Linked DNA regions of Homo sapiens: region 2 is linked to region 1. The links come from fine-mapping of genetic effects on gene expression. A gene starts in region 1. The other region holds a variant in brackets. All regions are shown on one strand. Distances are from middle to middle. Region 1 holds the start of S100A3 (S100 calcium binding protein A3). Region 2 has its middle 32 kb from the start of S100A6.

The links. PIP is the estimated chance that this variant, and not a neighbour inherited with it, causes the effect.
Region 2: its variant is the best candidate, but not a certain one, in a credible set for the expression of S100A3 in esophagus mucosa (GTEx, PIP 0.78).

Annotation. Positions count from the first base shown.
Region 1 is chr1:153,547,231-153,551,613 of GRCh38, reverse strand. S100A3 (S100 calcium binding protein A3) reads left to right here and starts at 2,356. Exons shown (of 3, transcript NM_002960.2): 1 at 2,356-2,433; 2 at 3,124-3,269; 3 at 3,768-4,285. The coding sequence starts at 3,129. The coding sequence ends at 3,932. LOC101928034 (a long non-coding RNA gene) reads right to left here. Exons shown (of 3, transcript NR_125947.1): 2 at 2,499-3,193; 3 at 1-371. RefSeq lists enhancers at 1,143-1,704, 2,268-2,829 and a silencer at 2,007-2,301.
Region 2 is chr1:153,501,662-153,506,044 of GRCh38, reverse strand. No RefSeq gene overlaps it. Among named protein-coding and RNA genes, the nearest start is that of S100A6, 32 kb to the left of the region's middle. The variant C/T (reference allele first, on the strand shown) is at 2,549.

The DNA of each region.
Region 1 (4,383 bases):
GAATTAATTGCTGGTGCACTCTGGCCCCCCCTTCTGCTGCGTGACTGTCTCTTGTTCTCTGCCCCCTGCTCCCCATACTTCCATTAAAAAGCCCATATAAAACAGGGCTATGTAGCCCATTATAAAACAGGGCTAATCACAGCTCCTCTTTTCCTTCCCTCCTCTATTGCTCACTCCCCTCCTCAACAGGGCTGAGTCTCCAAGGAGAGGACGGCACAGGCAAGGCTTGGGTGCTGGGGGCCGAGGGCGAGGTCGAAGGTGTCACTGGCGCTCTGGCTGCCTGCACGGGCAGGAAGGCTTCTTTGCCGGCCTGGGAGTCAATCTCCTTCCTCTTTTCCCTCTCACGCTCTTCTAGGTTTTGGGTTCTCTTCCTATAAAACAGGGAGGAGTTTCTCAGGCTCTGGTGTGAGGGAGAGAATAGAGAAGTTACATGAAAGTATGTCTGTTTCTGGTAATATGGTGGTCTGTGCCCACTTCAGCTTAAAAACAACAACAAATGCTGCATAGAATTAAATCTTTTCAAAGCATTGAAGAGACCACAAGGCAGTAAGAAATGAGTAGGCCAAAATCTAAGTCAAAGCAGAATCTGTACTGGGGCCCCCCGTGCCCTGAGGTCATTGGCCAAGCCAAGCCGAACCTGAGCTTTGATCCTGATGGTTTGGGGAGTGAGGAAGACAGAAGTGGAAGCCCAGTTCTCACCCCAAGAGGGGACACAAATGGATGACCCTCCCATGATGCTGAGACCCCAAAAGGCTACACACTCAAGCTAAAAGCCAGAGGAAATCCCATCCTGCCACCCACAAGACTTCAAGGAAAGTTGTTTTGGTGCTGAGCAGAGCAGGGGAAGAAGGAAAACAGCCCTTAAGGAGCTCCAGCCACTGGCCAGCCTTCATGTGACTCTAGCCCAAATTCATTCCCATCACCTGGGGTGGAAGGGCCAGAAATCTCAAGCTTAGACTCTGGAAGTGCCCCTGGGAGGAACACACCTCCTTCCTGTGCCTCAAAGACATCCCACCTGATGATTTCCCCCCTGGGAAGCAAGCAGTTCACAGCCAAAAGCTGGGATCTGGTCAGGCAAGTTCAGACTTCTCGTCTGTAAAGGGGAGGCTTAGCCACGTGCTCTCCAAGTTCTACCCGGAATAGAGATTTGTAGGGGTGCAACCTGAGCGAGGCAGAAGTGTGTCCCCACTTGGTATTCTGGGGGCCTCTGCAGAGTGAAGAGATGGGGCTGTGATGTGATGGATAAGCCAGACTGTCTCCTCCAACTGAGCTGGAAGGACTTGGCAGGAGACTGTCCCCTGTTCCCAACTCTGGGGGAGGGCAGATGGGGAATGAAAGGGGAGTGGTGTCTGAGCCCAGACTGGCCTTTGATGTGTGCGTGGATAGGTGGGCAGGTGGGGCCTGTAATGGGTCTGCTGAGGGATCCCTGAGGGCATCCTCAGTGTTGACCTACTTGTGTCCCCCATAATTGCTTCCTTCCTTTCTTGGGAGGCTACAAATAGTGACGCCCTGTCTCTAAGCTCCTACAGCTGAAACGCCAGCACCAGTGGTGAGTGCCAGCTGCTTGGGTCCTGCCCTGGGTTGAGTGTCAGGGCAGTTTGGGGACCCCCAGTAGCCAGCCTGACTCCTGACCCAGGGTCTGGCATTGGAAGCAGAGAGATGACCACAGGCGGGCCTGACACGGGGAGGGAAGTCAGATATAGTGGACGCAGAGGTTTCCTTACACAGTGAGGGGCTGTTGGGGAAGTTTGGGCAGGGAGGTGTGTAGAGCTAAGGTCTGCCTTGGGGTGGGAGCACTGGGCTCAAGGCTCTGGTCTTCCCCTTGATCAGGCCCCTCACCTGCTCCTTGCCTCCTTGCTTCACCTCTGAGTCTCCTCATTTCTGAGGATCATGGCCCTTTCCTCTCCTGGGAACCTGGACACCTTGCTCTAATCCTGGGGTGTTTACAATGAATTAAATCCTGGCAGTGCTTGGCACTCCCCACTCCCCTTCCCCTACTTTCCTGCCAGCCACAACCATGCCAGCCATTTGCTCCCAGCAGGGGGCCCAGCAGTGGGCAAATCTTCAGGGAGAGTCTTGGCCCTGGCCGCCCTGTGCTGCAGGACTCTTGTCCCGTGGGGGAATCAGGAGTGAGTCACTGGGCTAGCATGGAAAAAACTCTTGCCTTCCTGGCTGCCTTCGGGTTTTCCCAGGCTGGAGGCATCATCCCAGAAGGGCGGTGGAAGGGGACAGTGGAAGTGGGGGGAGGTGAGCAATTCCAGGAAGGGCTTCCCCTCCAATAGAACAGAGTATCCCTATACAGAACCTCCCTGCTCAAAACCCCCAGGGGTCGGGAGGGTAACCTCAGGGGAGGCCAGTCTCAGATTGGTAAACACCCGAACTGGTCAACTCTCAAGAGACCATCTGGTTCAGGTTCCTGACTGGGCCAGCGAGGTGAGATGAACCCCAACTTACAGATCAGGCCCCGCCCCTGAGACCCAGAGAGACAAATGGCTCACCAAGGTTGCACAGCTGGCGACAGGCAGAGAGGATCCCACAAGTTTTTCTTCTGGGTGCAGCTTCCTCGAGTTCAGGGCAGGAGGCAGGGTGAGGGCAGTGGTGGTGAGGCTGTGGGGGCGCCTCTCAGACCTGCCCCTCCCTGCTAAGGCCTAGCTTCTCCAAGGGCTGAGGGCAGAGAAGCACAGGGCCAGGCTCTCCTTGTGCAAGTTCCTGCAGGGAGGGAGGCTTCTAGGGCATCTCATGGGCTGGGGCAGACTGGGACCGAGCCATCCCTGGGTGTTGGGGATAAGAAGAGGTGGCAGATAATCTGAGAGTGCTTAAGGAGCCCCACGGTGGGGTGTGTGGGTGGTGGGGTAGGATGCTGTCTCTCTGAGGAGTTTACAGCGATGTTGGGGCAATGAGACCTCTACATGGGGAAATAACAACAGGACAGCAGGGGGATAAATTAGGAGGGGCTGGTGTGGTCTGGGAGGGCTACTCAGAGGAGGGGGAGACTGCGGGGCCTGAAGCCTGATGGAGGTTAAGATGGGTCTGGGAACAGTCTCTGAGAAACACAGAGGGCAGAGGTGAGCTGGGGGGCTGGCCTGGAACTCTGCTGTGAGCCACACCCTTGTTCTGTGACAGTGAGGATGGCCAGGCCTCTGGAGCAGGCGGTAGCTGCCATCGTGTGCACCTTCCAGGAATACGCAGGGCGCTGTGGGGACAAATACAAGCTCTGCCAGGCGGAGCTCAAGGAGCTGCTGCAGAAGGAGCTGGCCACCTGGACCCCGGTGAGCAGTCAGAGTGTCCGTCCCCTCCTCCTCCGGGGGGAGGCACTGCCTAGACTCTGCAAAGAGAGACCTGGGGACAACAAGCATGAGCACAGGACAGCAAGGGAGGGGGCTGGATTGTGAGGAGGGAGTGGGAGGGGGAGAACTGACACAGCAGAAACCTCAGCTTCCTCATCTGTAAAATGGGATGACAATCATCCCTGCTGCCTTGCAGAGCTGTTGAGAGGACTGAGTGAGAGCACCATGAAGAATGCCTAACACTTGGTAGGCACTCAGTAGCAAATAGTAGGTGCTCGATTAATAATCTGAGAGGACAGATTTGGGAGGGGATTGCAACGAGTGCATTATCAGAGCAGGGAGGTTGAAGTCGGCCCTCAGAAGGGTGTAGTTTGGGGTGGGGTGGGTCCACTTGGGAGAGGAAGGAGGGAGGTGGCGTGTGAGGCTGTTCTGCCCTCCTCATCCTACTCCCTTACCTCTCCCAACCCTTCCCTTGCACAGACTGAGTTTCGGGAATGTGACTACAACAAATTCATGAGTGTTCTGGACACCAACAAGGACTGCGAGGTGGACTTTGTGGAGTATGTGCGCTCACTTGCCTGCCTCTGTCTCTACTGCCACGAGTACTTCAAGGACTGCCCCTCAGAGCCCCCCTGCTCCCAGTAGCCTCTGCTCCAGGGGGTGCGCTGGCTGTCGGGGGCTGGGCATGTCTCCCACACCCCCTCCTACCCTCTCTCCTGTACCCCTTTCAATCTGGACTTGCCCAGGTCTTCTGCGATCAGTTAACCCATTTTACCTAGGAGGCCCAGAGATGTGAGGGCTCCTTCCTCAGGATGCCCAGCGAATGAGGGGTAGAGCCACTCTGGGGCCCAGCCTGCCTGCCGCACCCCTGTGGCCTCCCTTGTGGATGGGAGGAGGCGGGATCTGCTCTGAGGCCCTCGAGGCTCAGCAGAGCGTGCACCAATGAGACCACGATGGGAAAGGGCCTATTTAACTCCTAATAAAAAACTGGCATCAGCTTGGTTTTGTTTGGTTCTTCTCTGAGGACGCGTCTCCTGAGCTCTTTGCTCCTCTCTGGCCTTTTCCACTGCGGGAAGGCAGCTGAGGGCAGGGGCAG
Region 2 (4,383 bases), 46 kb after region 1:
TTGTCAGCAGCATGAAAACGGACTAATACACCATGTCAGGTAGGTATGCTGGAATTTCAATAAGACAAAGTTGAGAACGTGAGGGGAAACTTGGGGGCCTGTTCAGCAAACAGCCCCCAGGCTGACATCCTCTGGAATGTTCTGAGGAAATGGCATTCTCTGGGTCTTTTGCAACAAGTACCAACTTTACACAAATGACCCATCAGAGGGCTCTTTTTTCCAAGCCTCAAATCTAGCTCTTGTGATGATGTCACTCTGGCCACAATGATTATTGAAGAGGTGGGCACTACACTAAATTGGGCCAATCATGGCCTCTTCCTGGGGGAAGGATGTGAGGGAAAGAATGTCCTCTCTCCTTTGGATTGCTACCAGTGAATGACCAAAGTTGTGTCTCACACAGAAGCCCTCCTAGCATGCAAGAGAGTGCAAGATCTCCCAAGAAAGAGAGATGGAGCATCAATGGCATCTAGAAGCCAGGGGACATTATATGAGTTTTGGCATTTACCCCTGTATGATCCAGTGCTGTGAACTCTTTTCTCTTATTTTATTTTTCTTTTTTAGGGACAGGGTCTTGCTGTATTGCCTAGGCTGAAGTACAGTGCCTAGCCATAGGTGAGATCATAGCACAATACAGTCTTGAACTCTTGTGCTCAGGTGATCCTCCCAGCTCAGCCTCCTGAGAAGCTGGGACTATAGATGTGCATCATTGCACCCAGCTTCTCTCTCTTTCTCTTTCCTTCTTTCTTTTCTTTCTTTCTTTCTTTCTTTCTTTCTTTCTTTCTTTTCTTTCTTTCTTTCTTTCTTTCTTTCTTTCTTTCTTTCTTTCTTTCTTTCTTCTTTCTTTCTCTCTCTCTTTCTCTTTCTTTCTTTCTCTCTCTTTCTTTTCTTCCTTTCTTTCTTTTTCTTTCTTCCTTTCTTTCCTTTTTTCTCCTTCCTTCCTTCCCTCTCTCTCTCCCTCTCTGTCTCTTCCCTCTCTCTCTCTCTCTTTCTTTTTTTTTTTTGGATGGAGTCTCACTCTGTCGTCCAGGCTGGAGTGTAGTGGTGTAATCTTGGCTCACTGCAACCTCTGCCTCCCGGGTTCAAATGATTCTCCTGTCTCAGCCTCCTGAATAGCTGGGATTACAGGCTCACACCACCATGCCTGGCTAATTTTTGTATTTTTAGTAGAGATGGGGTTTCACCATATTGGCCAGGCTGGTCTTGAAGTCCTGACCTCAGGTGATGTCCACAAACCTCGGCCTCCCAAAGTGCTGGGATTACAGGTGTGAGCCACCACACCTGGTCAGCTTCTCTTTTTCTCTGAAGTGAGTCTTAGTAGAGGAGTTTTTCCCCTCAAAATATCTAAAACACTAAGACATCCCTTCAGAAGCCCCCACGTTGACACTATGTCATAGCAACATGTACCCTTGGTGACTCTCCTCTGCCTCACTATTCGAGTCACTGTCCTCTGCCCACACTTGTACCACTGCTTTCCACCAACACACACACACCTGGGGAAATGGAAAGATTAATACTGTATTAAGATCATTTTTCCCACTTGGCCCTGCAAATGACTCTGGGAGGTAGGTGGGTTGGGCAGGTTGGGTTTACCCCTATTTTGCAGGTAAGGAAACAGAGGCTCAGGGAAGTGAAAAGCTGTGGCCATGCCTCAGGGCTGGTGCCAGGGCTGAGTTGCAAACCCAGGTGATCTGGTGCCAGGCTGAGATGGCAGTGCCACTGTGAGGCAGTATGGCATTGCAGAAGGCAGCAGGGAGTTAGACTTTGACTTAGAAAGAGCAGCTAACTTCTGTGAGACTTAGTTTCATCAGCTGAAAAACTAGTGTTTTAGTCTGTTTTTTGGTGCTTCAGAATACCTGAAACTGGGTAATTTATAAAGAAAAGGAATTTATTTCTTACAGTTTTGGAGACTGAGAAGTCCAGGGTCAAGGGGCTGCATCTGGTGAGGGTCTTCTTGCTGGTGGGGACTCCCTGCAGAGTTCTGAGGCAGCACAGAGCATCAAGTGGTGCTGGGGCTGAGTGCGCTGGCTCAGGTCTCTCTTCCTCCTCTTATAAAGCCACCAATCCCACTCCCATGATCACCCATTAATCCGTTAATCCATTTATCCATGAATGAATGGATTAGTGGATTCGTGGGGCTAGGGACCTCATGACCCAATCACCTTTTGCAGGCCTCATCTCCCAGTACTGCCACACTGAAGATTAAATTTCAACATGAGTTTTAGGGAGGCCAAATATTCAAGCCATAGCAATGGGATACAATTATCTATCCTATAAAGCTGCCTTGAGTCTTAAAAGAGAGCTTCCAATTTAAAAGGCACCTGGCCCACAGACCGTGACACCATCATATTCTTGTGAAATGGCTCCTGAAGGTAGGGAGTAAGGCAAAATGTCTACACTACCCAGCCCAACAAACAGCAAGCACAAGGAAATATGAAGACCCTGGGTCAGTGCTCTGCGCTCCGTTCTCTCTTAGACTAGTTTCTACAGCCCGTGAAAGTGTGGGAGGACACCTGGTAACTGCGCAGTAATTTGCACACTTGAGTGGGCA[C/T]TGGGATCACCGGAGGGCTTGTTAGAACACAGATCTCTGGGCCCCTATCCCAGAGGTCCTAACACAAGCAGGTCTGTGGTGGCCTGAGACTCTGTATTTCTAGTAAGATCCCAGGTGCCGTTGTTGCTGCCGTTCTGGGGACCACATTTTGAGAACTGCTGTCCTACAGGGTCTGCTCCTGGGAGGGCCCAGAGACAGGGTGTGGGGATCCCTTTGTGTTTTCTCTCCCAACCAGGCTTCACTGAATGGTTTCTGGAGCCCGTCCTGCATCCAGGCAGCTGGACCAGCGTCACTGGCAGCTTTAGTGAATGCGGTTAGTGAAGAACCAGAAAAAACAGGTGTCACACTTTTGGTGCTTGAATTTTTTTTTTTTTTAAATTTTTGAGACGGAGCTGACTCACTCTGTCATCCAGGCTGGTGTTCAGTGGCATGATCTCGGCTCACTGCAACCTCTGCCTCCCAGGTTCAAGCGATTCTTCTGCCTCAACCTCCCGAGTAGCTGGGATTGCAGGTGCGCACCACCACACCCAGCTAATTTTTGTATTTTTAGTAGAGACGGGGTTTCACCATGTTGGCCAGGCTGGTCTCGAACTCCTGACCTCATGATCCACCTGCCTCGGCCTCCCAAAGTGCTGAGATTACAGATGTGAGCCACTGTGCCCGTCCTGGTGCTTGCATTTTAAAAAGCCAGGGTAGAGGTGCAAGATAATAAAGATTTGGAAGCATATGTAAGCGTTCCCTAAGCTTCCTACCATGACCCCAGCCAATCCATATGGGACGACTGGTGGGGGCAGGAGCTGAGAGCACTGAGCTCACAGAACAGTTCTAGCCCTGAGATGGCCCTCCCAGCACTGATCAGTGCCAGCAGGAGGAACATAGGGCCTGGACACTTCACTGAGCCTCCCATCCCACCCACCAAAGGCCCACATGGGTGGTGGGGCCTGGAAACCGAGGGAGGTGGTGGTGCATGGAAGGGGTAGTCTTCCATCCCCTGCCCCAACTTGGGCAAGATGGAGCTTCCTGGCTACATAGGGTTACTACCAAACAGACAACTCCTTGTAGGGCTTATTTTATTTTATATTTTAATTTAATTTAATTTAATTTAATTTAATTTAATTTAATTTAATTTAATTTAATGTTAGTGTTTGCCTTCCTATCTGCCTATCACTATAAGGCAGCCAGAGCCCTGAGCTCTTCCTTGGTCTTCCCAATATTTCTGTATCTAACAAGAGAATAAAGGATCATTGGGCAGAAAGTAGACGTAAGAGAGAAGAAAGAGAATACTGGGAGTGGTGCATGGCACCCTCATTGTTACAATAAGAGTAGCTCCTAACAGTGTCCATCAACATTGCTGGATGTCAGTCACAACAGGCATGGACAGCAGGTAAATAGCCACAACAAATGCCAACTTTCTCTAGAGCTGTAGCATCTACCACATAGATTTTGTGTAGACCAAAAGGGCTCTCTGCAACCCAGGCAAAATGTATAAAAACACAGATATGCCTAGACACTCTCAGGCAAAAGTATTGCTCAAAGGAAAATAAAAAGATTGCCTATAAAAGAGCAATTCAAGTGAATCTCATATTTCTTAGAAGTTACAAATAAGCAAAATCTTCAGTTTTTGAGGAAAGAAAAGGTTGTGCCTCAGAATTGCATAAACATAATTAAGCAGCTAGCCATCTGTGAGGACACCAGAAAAATATCCCTAGATATACAAAGGTCCCTAATATTCTCTTCTTGAAGTAAAGAATCATGTTCTCTTCTTGAAGTAAATTACTTCAAGACTGGCTAAAAGATGAATAAAAATTTTAAGAATTCTGGAATGGTGACTTAGA